2 linked regions of the Homo sapiens genome follow. The protein of the gene in region 2 interacts with the protein of the main gene of each other region in a pairwise test. Each region holds a gene or a part of one and is shown on either strand. Other genes may lie near its edges.

What was found. Proteins that work in one complex are often made in the same cells at the same time.
Region 1: the proteins of RHOG (region 2) and UNC13D interact in binary tests that used the Homo sapiens proteins (3 or more experiments, as listed by UniProt).

The regions. Positions count from the first base shown.
Region 1 is NC_000017.11:75,841,405-75,848,579, forward strand, and holds the start of UNC13D (protein unc-13 homolog D), read right to left. Parts: upstream 3,001-7,175; 5' UTR 2,934-3,000; coding exon 2,817-2,933; intron 2,116-2,816; coding exon 2,080-2,115; intron 1,863-2,079; coding exon 1,755-1,862; intron 1,670-1,754; coding exon 1,610-1,669; intron 1,520-1,609; coding exon 1,453-1,519; intron 1,210-1,452; coding exon 1,029-1,209; intron 1-1,028. Other genes in the region: WBP2 (WW domain-binding protein 2), read right to left, coding at 5,330-5,383, 5,504-5,580, 6,083-6,205, 6,392-6,526, 7,166-7,175. UniProt on the Homo sapiens protein: Plays a role in cytotoxic granule exocytosis in lymphocytes. Required for both granule maturation and granule docking and priming at the immunologic synapse.
Region 2 is NC_000011.10:3,826,450-3,830,959, reverse strand, and holds the end of RHOG (rho-related GTP-binding protein RhoG), read left to right. Parts: intron 1-2,753; 5' UTR 2,754-2,821; coding exon 2,822-3,397; 3' UTR 3,398-3,982; downstream 3,983-4,510.

The DNA.
Region 1 (7,175 bases), on a different chromosome or scaffold from region 2:
AGTGCTGGGATTACAAGCGTGAGCCACCGCGCCCAGCCTTTTTTTTTTTTTTTTTGAGACAGAGTCTCACTCTGTCACCCAGGCTGGAGTGCAGTGGCGTGATCTCGGCTCACTGCAACCTCCGCCTCCCGGGTTCAAGTGATTCTCCTGCCTCAGCCTCTTAAGTAGCTGGGATTACAGGCATGCACCTCCACGCCCGGCTAATTTTTGTACTTTTAGGAGAGGTGGGCCTTCATTGTGTTGGCCAGGCTGGTCTCAAACTCCTGACCTCAGGTGATCCACCTGCCTCGGCCTCCCAAAAGTGCTGGGATTACAGGCATGAGTCCCTGCGCCTGGCCCCCACTAATTTTTTTTTTTTTTTTTGAGACAGAGTGTCGCTCTGTCACCAGGCTGGAGTGCAGTGGTGCTATCTCGGCTCACTGCAACCTCCGCCTCCCAGGTTCAAGCGATTCCCCTGCCTCAGCCTTCCGAGTAGCTGGGACTACAGGCGCCTGCCACCACGCCCGGCTAATTTTTTGTATTTTAGTAGAGACGGGGTTTCACCGTGTTAGCCAGGATGGTCTCAATCTCCTGACCTCATGATCTGCCCTCCTCAGCCTCCCAAAATGCTGGGATTATAGGCGTGAGCCACCACGCCCGGCCTTTTTTGTATTTTTAGTAGAGATGGGGTTTTGCCATGTTGGCCAGGCTGGTCTCAGTCTCCTGGCCTCCCAAAGTGCTGGGATTACAGGTGGGAACCACTGCACCCATCCCTGCCTCCTTTCAGGTACAGCTTCAGGCACCCCCAGACTCACCCACAAGGGCCTGACCCTCCTTGCCCCATCAGCACGTGTGGCATTGATCTTGTTCTGTCCCATCTGACCTACTGTCCACCTAACGTGCCTGGAGATGGGCTTCTCCTCTAGTCTTTGCCCAGGGCCAAACCCCCTCCCCTGAGCCAGGACGACCTACTCATCTCATTGTCTGGGGCAGACCCTGCTACCCAGGAAAGACCTGGATAGAGTGGGGGCTGGAGCACGGCCACGTACAGGATGAAGGTCTCGTCCCAGACGGGGTTGAGTGTCTGGGTGATGACCTGCGTGCGGTGGGTCTCCTCCTCGGGGATGGTGTGCCTCACCACAGCCTTCTGCCGATGCCGGGACCCGGGGCTGCCCCCTGGCACACCTACCCCCTGCTCAATGCCCAGCAGGCAGTAGGGGTCGCTGAACCCTGTGGAGGAGTGGGGAAGACGAGGCAGCCAGGGAGTCGGCTGGGTCCCTGGGAGAGGCCCTCATCACCCCCGCCCGGGGCTGAGCCTCCTCCGGGGGAGAGGGAAGGGGACCAGCAGCATGGGGGGCCAGCGCTACAGGGCTTCTTGGAAGTGGGTGCTCCCGCCAAGAGTCCTGGGCCAGGCTGTGATGGGAGAGGAAGGAGCCAGGAAGAAGCCCCTTGGGGACCCCACCCCATGCTCACCACTGACATCTTTGCCCAGAATGCCCTTGGCCTGTTTCACTGTTGCCTTCAGACAAAATATTGGCTTCTGGAGGGACAGGAGGGATGGCCTGAGTCCCTGAGGGGGCTGGGCTTCCCAGGCCCCTCCTTGCCCAGGGGGACCCTGGCCCCAGGTTACCTCAAGCTCCCTGACCCGCTGCAGTGTCTGCTGGTGCTCCTCGGGCTCCACGTGGAAGGCCTGGTGGGGAGGCAGGCGGGTGGGTGGCTGGGGGCACCAGACAGGGCAGCTGCAGGAAGGGGGGTGGGGTGGGAGCCGGGCTCACCTCCTGCAGGTATCGCAGCAGCTCAGAGGCCTCCGTCACATGGTTGGGCTCAGGATGACCCAGGCGGTGCAAGACAGTGTAGAGTGCGTCCTCGTAGAGCAGGGCCCGCTAAGACACACGGGGTCACCTTGGGGACCCCACCAGCCACCCCTGGCACCAACACCTCTCGCCATGGGCAGGACAAGGGCGGCTTGTGCAGCGGAGGGAGTTGAGACCCAGGAGTCCCCTCCCCACCGCAAGTTGCTTGCTGCCATCAGCGTCGGCCGGCAGGAGGACACACAGCCGCCCTCCCCACCTCTCTGCACCCCAGCACTCTGACTCTTACCTGCTCGGGGGAGAAGTGGTGGGATGGAGGCTGGATCTGCAGAGCAAGGTGGAAAGGCAGTGTCCCGGGAGGCCCAGAGCAGGCTCAGATGGACAGGAATGGCTCCTCTGAGGCCTGATCCAGGCCAAGGGTATGGGGGCCCCAGCACCCCGGCCTCCAGCCCCAGTGATGCCCCGCACCTGTTCCCCCAGCAGGCCTCCTGGAGGTCCGTCCCTGGGCCCGCCGTGGCTGAGGTCCATGGGTGCCCAGCAGCGCGAGCCCTCCGCACCCGCACCCCACCTCCCTCCCTTCCCCAGAGGAAACAGCTCTGCTTATCAGTGGCGGCTGCTCCTCACCCAGCAGCGGAAGTGAGGCTCGGCAGCGGAGGTGAGGGGGGTGCCACGTCGGCCTGGGGGTCTGCTGCTCCCCGAACAGCTCACCCCACAGCAGGGACACCCCCACCTAATGGAGTCGGCTCTTCTGAAGCTGGAGGAGTAGGGGATGGGGTCAGGCCAACCGGGAGGGAGGGGTTCTGAGAGCCTCAGACCACAGGGCCTGAGGCCCACAGTGGCCCAGAGTCCATCTGGCAGCCCCTGCTCTGCTGGCCCAGGGGGCTCTCCCCAGGGTGGAGTAGGCAGGGGAGGGTCGCTGGTCCCCAGTCCCAGCCTTCGAGAGGTGGGGCCAGACAGCAGGGCACCCGTACCCGAGACCACAGTGCTCCCCAAGGCCAGCTCTCTCCCCAGTGAGGTCACTCCTACCTCCGGGGCCATTTGGGGCGGGGGATCCTGTAGATCTCTGACTCTGCGGCGCCTTATCTTGATGGCCTGGCGCAAGAAGGGAGGGCGCTGCTGCGGATGGGAGAGGAGTGTCGCCATGGTGGCCTTCTCTGCCCTTCCCTGTCCGCTGGTGCTGGGTGAAGACAGCGAAGCCACAGGATTATGCAAAGAGCCTGGGGCTGCCACCCTCTGTCAGGGGAAGTTTTAGGGAGGGTGGCTGGGAGGGACGGAAGGGTGAGGGTTTCACCGCTTCGGAGAGGCAGTCTCCCAGGCCCCCTGCACCTTCCCCAGCTGGGATCCCTACAGGACCCTCCTCTGGCTGGAGCAGAAGGTGGACCCCGTGGGCAGGCCTGGCCCCGCCCCACCCTCCTACAGAGGCCCTGGGAAGGGGACAACGCTCTCAGCAGGGGGCGGGGGGGCCCAGAACAGGCGGGCAGCATCCTGCCCCATCCATGTGCTGTGCCCAGGCTGGGCTGAACCCTGAGAGAAGCTGACCTGGGCCCGGGGGGGTTCTCACCCCACTTCCTCGAGTGCGTCCAGACGTGGGGCGGGGCGGGGTGGGGTGGGGTGTGGTGGCGCCCAGGGTGGGGGCTCCCAAGAGGCGTCTCCCTGGAGGACAGCCAGTTGCTCAGCCTGCCTGGCCCCACAGGTGACATTCCTTGGAGATGACGGGGCCAAGCTGTGCTGGGCAGGGACAGCCCTGTGCCCCTGCCCCCACCTTGGCAGTCAGGACAGTGCTCCCTTCAGACACCCTTGAAGGGGGCTTAGCCAAGTCCCAGAGAGCTCTGGGCCAGGCTGGCCAGGAGGAGGAGGCAGAGGGGCTGCTGCCCGATCTCTCCTGAGGACAGACTTGGCTCCCGGGGGACAGGAAAATGCGCCTCAGCATGGGGCTTTCCTAGAGCTCTGTGGCCTGCCCACCCTGTGCCCAGTGCTGGGCTGGGGGACTTGCGGGCGTGTGGGCCTGGTCACGGCCTTTGGCCATTTCCCACCCTCCTGTCCCTTCAAGTTCACAGCAGGGCACGTGACGTGGGTGGTGGCAAGCCGGCTTGGCTACCTCAGTGTCCCTGTCACAGGTCCTGACGTGCTCCAGGGCTGACTCGGCCTCCTCCCTCCAGCAACCAGGACTTAGGCCAGGGCTGCCATTCCTCGAGGAGCCAGCAGGGGACAAGGTGGCAGCCCCAACTCCTCCCTTCAAGGCCAACTCTGGGCCACATCCACCTCTGTCCCAGCCAGGCCCTGGGGACTCAGTGGGGGAGGGACACAGCTGCTGAGCGACAACCGTTAAGAACCAGCTCCAGAGGCCAGAGCTGTCTTGGGGACCAGACAGGCTGGCTGGGCCGTGAGAATGGGGATCCTCCCATGGGAGGGAACCGTCCCAGAAGTCTCCAGGGCCCTCAGCGGCCAGACGGCTCTCCTTCCGGAAGAGACCCCCGGGTCACCACACGCAGAGCCAGAAAGGGTCCAGTTATTTCATTTTTACTATTTCACATTTTCAGCAAACAAATCGAGGTGCAAACAGGGTTTATTTCACATTAATATATTAACTGGATTTTTTGTCAAATAAATAGGGAATTCTCTTTAAATAACCATCTCCTCACTTCATGGCCAGTCCAGGGACAAACAAGAGTGAATGTTAGCGCATCCAGGGGCACAAAGCTTAAGGGGAAGAAGCAGGCTGGGGGGCTGGTGGCAGGTCCCGGCCAGCACACAGGGTCAGGGGCCCTTGTTCCCGGCCCCACCCAGCAGCCACCAAGTGGACAGACATGCATTCTCTGGTTCCAGTCAGGAAGCTCCTTCTAGAAGGAAGTGAGAGGTGAGGGAAAGCAAATTCCAGAAACACCAGCAAAAGGCAGAAGGGCTTCCTCCCAGCCTCGGCGGCCCTGCCCCGACGCCACCCAAGCCCTGGAAGCTCATTTTACAGCTTCAAAAGTCACACAGGGTGGCAACAACATGACCCAGGACAGGGAAGGGAAGGAAGGGTGGCGGGGGCTGCAGCTGGACCCTGGCTGAGTGGAATGCGGGCGCGGTGGCCTTCTGAGACCAGCACAGACCAGCAGAGGGAATGTGAGCAGGGTCTGGCAGGGCCCGGGAAGACACCTGGCTGGTCTGAAGTGGCTCATGAGGCTGAGTGTAGCAGTGGGTGCCAGACTGAGGGAGCTGGACTGCGGTGGAGGAGGTGGCCAGAGAGTCCCTTCGAGGGGAGAAGCTGAGAGTGAAACAGGAACAGGGGATGCTCCGTGCTCCCAGAAGAGCCCCAGACGGTGAGGGAGGTACGCTGGGCAGCACTGTGGGCTCCGGGCTGGCATGGGAAGCTGGGCGGCACCTCTCCCGAGGCCGGGGGCCCTAATGTCCCACAATGCTAGTTCCTGGTAATTGTTTATGATCAGACCTGGAGGGAGAACAAGGCGCCCCCTCCCCTCCCCAAGCCCCAGCACAGCCCCGATGGGAGGGGTAGGGTAGAGAGATGAGGGTGGGAGGCAGGGAGGCAGGAGGGCCTACTGGGTCTTCTTATCTTCCGGTGGGTAGTAGGGAGGTGGCGGCGGCTGGCTCTAAAGAAGGGAGAAAGGAGAGACTTGCATTAGAAGGTTTAAAACATGGTGCGGTCATCCCCCTGCGGCTCCCAGCATCTGCGGCTGTGGGGCTGCACCGGCACTGCCAAGCCCTCTCACCGTGGGCATGTAGACGTTGTGAGGATTGCCTGGGTTGTAATAGGCGCTGGCGGCTGCTTCTGCGGCCTTGGCTTCGGCTGTGAGAGCAAACACACCTGGTGTCGGTGACAAGTTCTCCTCCCCCTGAGCTCAGCTAAGAGACCCCGGGCCCCCATGGCTCGGGGCAGCTGGTGCTGGGGGTCCAGTTCCACCAATGAGAGCAGCAGGTGAGGTTTCCTGAGCACATGCCACGCGCTGGCACGGTCCTTTCCAGGCCCATCGCATGTCTCACCTCATCTAATCCTTGAGCCAATGCCCCAGGTGCCACTGTGACCGACCAGCTGAGTGTAGATGAGAGGATCGAGAGGCACACAGGGTGACCTTCCCCGCCCAGGGCACATGGATAGCTAAGGGATGGGGGTGGGGCCAGAATCTAGCTCCGCTCCACCAGGCCACAGCCCTGCTGGGCCCCTGGGGTAGTCCAGGGGTCATCCATCATCTGCGGCTCTCAGCAGTCTCTGGCCATTCTGAGGCTCTCTGTGCGACATCGGGGAGGAGAGGGCTGGTCCCGAAGGGCTGCCAGCACCCAAGGGCCCTCACCTGCAGGAGTGGAGGGGACATCGGGGCCGCTGACCGGAGGTTCCATGGGCCCAGGGTAGGGCGGTGGTGGGGGCTGCACGTATCCCATGGCCCCGTCCATCATGGGGGGTCCTGGATAGAACTCTGCTCGGTGAGAGAGTAACAAGGACATGGTGAGCACCCGGCTGCGGCCCCCTCCCGGGTGAGGGGGGCCTCTCCAGCTCCTTCGTTGGTCCTGAAGCAGCTCAAGGAATAAAGTCTCCCTGGCCTGGGGGGAGCCTGGGTAGGTGGGCTCATGAGGGGAGTGGGGGCAGCAAAGGACACACTCACCAGGTGGGGGCGGTGGATAGGGGTAGCCAGGAGGGCAGGGGTACATTCCATTGGCGACTGGCGGGGGATAGACATAGGCCCCGCTGGGCATGTAAGAGTAGCCATAGGCTCCACTGGGGACTTCACCTCTGGAGGCTACGAGTACAAGGGGAAAGAGAAATGAGCGTGGCCTGCCTTGGGGCGGGGAGAGGGCAGCCCCGCTGCCTGCAGATGGGAGCTACTGGGTCTCAGGAATGTGCCCCGCAGACATCCTCTGTCCATCCCACTCCACCCTCCACCCATACTCGGGGGGCCACCTTGGTCAGGGATGAGAGAGGACGGGAGAGGTCAGAGCCAGGGGAAGGCAAGGGAGGTCAAGGGCAAGGCTGGAGGGTGGACAGAGGCCGGGAGGGAGGCTCAGGGCTGGGGTAGGAGTGAGCTGGCGGAGGATGTCTGCTGGCCCATCCCTCGGTCATTTTCAATGGCTGCGGAACCGCAGTCGAATGGTTGGTTTAGTGTTTGTTTTATGAGGCCATAGTAAAGTGTCCTTGAGTCCAAACAGCTTTGTCAAAACGTCATCCACCTGCCCCAGGCAGGGAAACGCAGTCTCTGAGGTACAGGACAGAGCTGATGCCAATGACAGCTTTCCTTCCCAACTCCTAGGCCTGGTCAGCCTGGTGCCCAAACACTTACCTCTTGAGTTCTTGAAAAAGCAAAACGAAAAGGAAGCAAACTCATACCAAACCCCTACATGTTTAGTGTGTCTTTAGCCCCTAATCTTCGGAGCCTGGATACCTTGAGATGC
Region 2 (4,510 bases):
ATTGACCACCAAGAGTCCCCCATGGCCAAGAGGAAGTAGCTGATGAGAGAAGGATCCTTGCCATAGCAGTGTAAATAATCACAGGGTTTCTGGAAGCTGTGTTCCAGAACTCAGAAAAGCAGTTCATCTCCCCGAGGCCCTGTGACCTGCAGAGGTAACCAGATGTTGGCTGGAGCTGGGACTCCTCATACTTACCCCACTCATAAATACAGCAGTCCATTTATTGGGCACTTGCTATGTGCCATACCTCATGCTGGACATCTTCTATACATTATTAACTCTTACTTTTTATTTTTTTTTTTTTGAGACAGGGTCTTGCTCTGTCGCACAGGCTGGAGTGCAGTGGTGTGATCATAGCCCACTGCAGCCTTGACCACCCTGGGATCAAGTGATGCTCCCACCTCAGCCTCCCGAGTAGCTGGGACTACAGGTGTGTACCACCACACCCTGGTAATTTTTTCATTTTTTGTAGAGTCAGGGTTTTGCCATGTTGCCCAGGCTAGTCTCAAACTCCTGGGCTCAAGCGATCTACCTGCCTCATTCTCCCAAAGTGCTAAGATTACAGGCATGAGTCACCGTGCCTGGCCTCATTTCATATTCTGAGCAATTGTAATGCAATAGGCAAGATTATCCCCATTTTACAGATGAGAAAATTGAGGCTCAGGGAACAAATATATTGCCAAGATCACATATAACTAGTTGGTGGAGCTGTGATTAGAATACCTGCGAGTCTTACTCTAGCATCTATGTTCTTAATGATGGTATTTTCTATCCAAGAGTCTGGAAGTCTCTAAAATCTTTCAGAGGCACATGCCAGGATCTCAGGAAATGGACAGAAGATTGAGGGGAAAGTCAAGTTTTTGTCTTACTCTTGACTTCATCCTTCCTAGTTGGGCCTGAAAGATTTGCTCCAGGCCGGGCATGGTGGCTCATGCCTGTAATCCCAGCACTTTTTGGAAGGCCAAGGCGGGCAGATCACAAGGTCAGGAGTTCAAGACTAGCCTGACTAACATGGTGAAACCCCGTCTCTACTAAAAATACAAAAATTAGCTGGACGTGGTGGCATGCGCCTGTAATCCCAGCCACTCGGGAGGGTGAGGCAGGAGAATCGCTTGAACCCGGGAGGTGGAGGTTGCAGTGAGTCAAGATTGCGCCACTACACTCCAGCCTGGGCGACAGAGCAAGACTCCGTCTCAAAAAAGAAAAAAATTTGCTCCACCCCACCAAGGGCCTTGAGAGAAGATACTAATGTCTGGGAGCCTCAGCCTCTACCTCATTCATCATAACATACCCAGACCCCAGTCCAAATCCCAGGTCCAACTGAATCTCCAGTATTCCCCTGCATTGAATTGGCAATCTGAGTGTACATGGCCAGATAGGGTTTTCAGTACTTACAAGAATGATGGGGTGGCCAGGTGTGGTGGTTCACGCCTGTAATCCCAGCACTTTGGAAGGCTGAGGCAGGTAGATCACCTGAGGTCAGGAGCTTGAGACCAGCATGGCTAACACGGCGAAACTCCATCTCTACTAAAAATATAAAAATTAGCCGGATGCAGTGGCACCTGCCTGTAGTCCCAGCCACTCGGGAGGCTGAGGCAGGAGACACTTGAACCCAGGAGGCGGAGGTTGCAGTGAGCTGAGATCACGCCACTGCACTCCAGCCTGGACGACAGAGTGAGACTCCATCTCAAAAAAAAAAAAAAAAAAAAATTTCCCCATTGCCAGAATACCCTGGATTGGGATAGGGCAGCTCTCTAAAGAATTGAGCCCCTTACTCAGCAGGTTTCTTAACTGTGCCTTTGGGTTTGTACTCAGTAGCCAAGATACCAGGTTTGGAGAGGGCAGGGTGGGCCCTGAGTTGAGAGAGGTTCTACTTATGGCTGCATCACAGAGTGACCTGGGACAGCTGTCCTGTGCCAAAACACTTTCCAGTCTCCTGGTGGAAAGGGTCCATATTTAGTAGAGGATCTAGTAGATCCCTAAATTTGTGCACTCTCCTTTTGTGTCTGTATAGCCTGGAAAAAAAAAATAGCTAATACTGGCCAGGCGCAGTGGCTCACGCCTGTAATCCCAGCACTTTAGGAGGCCAAGGCGGGCGGATCACGAGGTCAGGAGATCGAGACCATCCTGGCCAACACGGTGAAACCCCATCTCTACTAAAAATACAAAAAATTAGCCGGGCGTGGTGGTGGGTGCCTGTAGTCCCAGCTACTCGAGAGGCTGAGGCAGAATGGCGTGAACCCAGGAGGCGGAGCTTGCAGTAAGCCGAGATGACGCCACTGCACTCCAGCCTGGGTGACAGAGTGAGACTCTGTCTCAAAAAAAAAAAAAAAAAAATAGCTAATACTTGTGGACGAGGCACTGTTTTAAATGCTTTACATGTATTATATAATGCTCACAATGACCCAGTGAGGTAGATATTATTTTATCCTCATTTTACTGGTAAGAAAACTTAGGCATACAGAGGTTAAGCAATTTTTTCAGGGTTACACAGCTAGGAAATAGCAAAATCAGGATTTGACCTTAGTTTGTCTGGCGCCAGAGTTTATGTGCTTTCTACCACATTATACTGCCTCTTTGCTTGGCCTCAGGGCCTTTCATTGTGTGTCTTTCTGATGACCGTCTTGATGGGACTTTGGGATAGTGTCAGGTTAAGGGAACAGGAGCCGGTTTCCCTTTGTGTGCCCCCATCTTTTCTTCCCAATAGGCAGAGGCCTCCCTAACCAAGAATGTCCCCTTTCATCTGTCCACAGGTCACTGCAGCCAGAGGGGTCCAGAAGAGAGAGGAGGCACTGCCTCCACTACAGCAACTGCACCCACGATGCAGAGCATCAAGTGCGTGGTGGTGGGTGATGGGGCTGTGGGCAAGACGTGCCTGCTCATCTGCTACACAACTAACGCTTTCCCCAAAGAGTACATCCCCACCGTGTTCGACAATTACAGCGCGCAGAGCGCAGTTGACGGGCGCACAGTGAACCTGAACCTGTGGGACACTGCGGGCCAGGAGGAGTATGACCGCCTCCGTACACTCTCCTACCCTCAGACCAACGTTTTCGTCATCTGTTTCTCCATTGCCAGTCCGCCGTCCTATGAGAACGTGCGGCACAAGTGGCATCCAGAGGTGTGCCACCACTGCCCTGATGTGCCCATCCTGCTGGTGGGCACCAAGAAGGACCTGAGAGCCCAGCCTGACACCCTACGGCGCCTCAAGGAGCAGGGCCAGGCGCCCATCACACCGCAGCAGGGCCAGGCACTGGCCAAGCAGATCCACGCTGTGCGCTACCTCGAATGCTCAGCCCTGCAACAGGATGGTGTCAAGGAAGTGTTCGCCGAGGCTGTCCGGGCTGTGCTCAACCCCACGCCGATCAAGCGTGGGCGGTCCTGCATCCTCTTGTGACCCTGGCACTTGGCTTGGAGGCTGCCCCTGCCCTCCCCCCACCAGTTGTGCCTTGGTGCCTTGTCCGCCTCAGCTGTGCCTTAAGGACTAATTCTGGCACCCCTTTCCAGGGGGTTCCCTGAATGCCTTTTTCTCTGAGTGCCTTTTTCTCCTTAAGGAGGCCTGCAGAGAAAGGGGCTTTGGGCTCTGCCCCCCTCTGCTTGGGAACACTGGGTATTCTCATGAGCTCATCCAAGCCAAGGTTGGACCCCTCCCCAAGAGGCCAACCCAGTGCCCCCTCCCATTTTCCGCTACTGACCAGTTCATCCAGCTTTCCACACAGTTGTTGCTGCCTATTGTGGTGCCGCCTCAGGTTAGGGGCTCTCAGCCATCTCTAACCTCTGCCCTCGCTGCTCTTGGAATTGCGCCCCCAAGATGCTCTCTCCCTTCTCCAATGAGGGAGCCACAGAATCCTGAGAAGGTGAATGTGCCCTAACCTGCTCCTCTGTGCCTAGGCCTTACGCATTTGCTGACTGACTCAGCCCCCATGCTTCTGGGGACCTTTCCTACCCCCATCAGCATCAATAAAACCTCCTGTCTCCAGTGGCCCCGGCTCCTCCCTGTGTGCTGGGCATTAGCGGGTGGGCATGGGCTAGGGCTCCCCAGAGACTGGGAGCCTTTTGTTTCTTCTAGTAGACAATAGGCTTCATTGTGGTCCCCTCACCCCTCAATTTCCCTAACAAAGCTCTAGGCTCCCTTGGAGGGGGCAGTCTTGCTCTGGGGCCCAGTCACAGATGCTGTAGTGGACTCAGACACAAAACCTGAGGAAAGACTTCTTGATCTTAGGGCTCAGAAAGGGAGAGGTTCAGAGCCATTAGTCTAAAGGCAGATGCTCCCACAGTCATGCATGTGACAGCTGTACCTCACATCCCCAAGAGGACAGCTTTAACAACAAGAGTTGGAATTTGAACCCAGGTCTCTGTCTCAACTGAAGACTTCCAGGTACCCTAGCTTGCAGTCCTAGAATCATTACAGATAGCTCACTCACTCCTGCTCACCAAAATAAAGGCTTAGACCAGCTTTAGGAGACTCCAGACCTAAGGGGGACTGGGGGGTTCTGCTAGGAATCATACC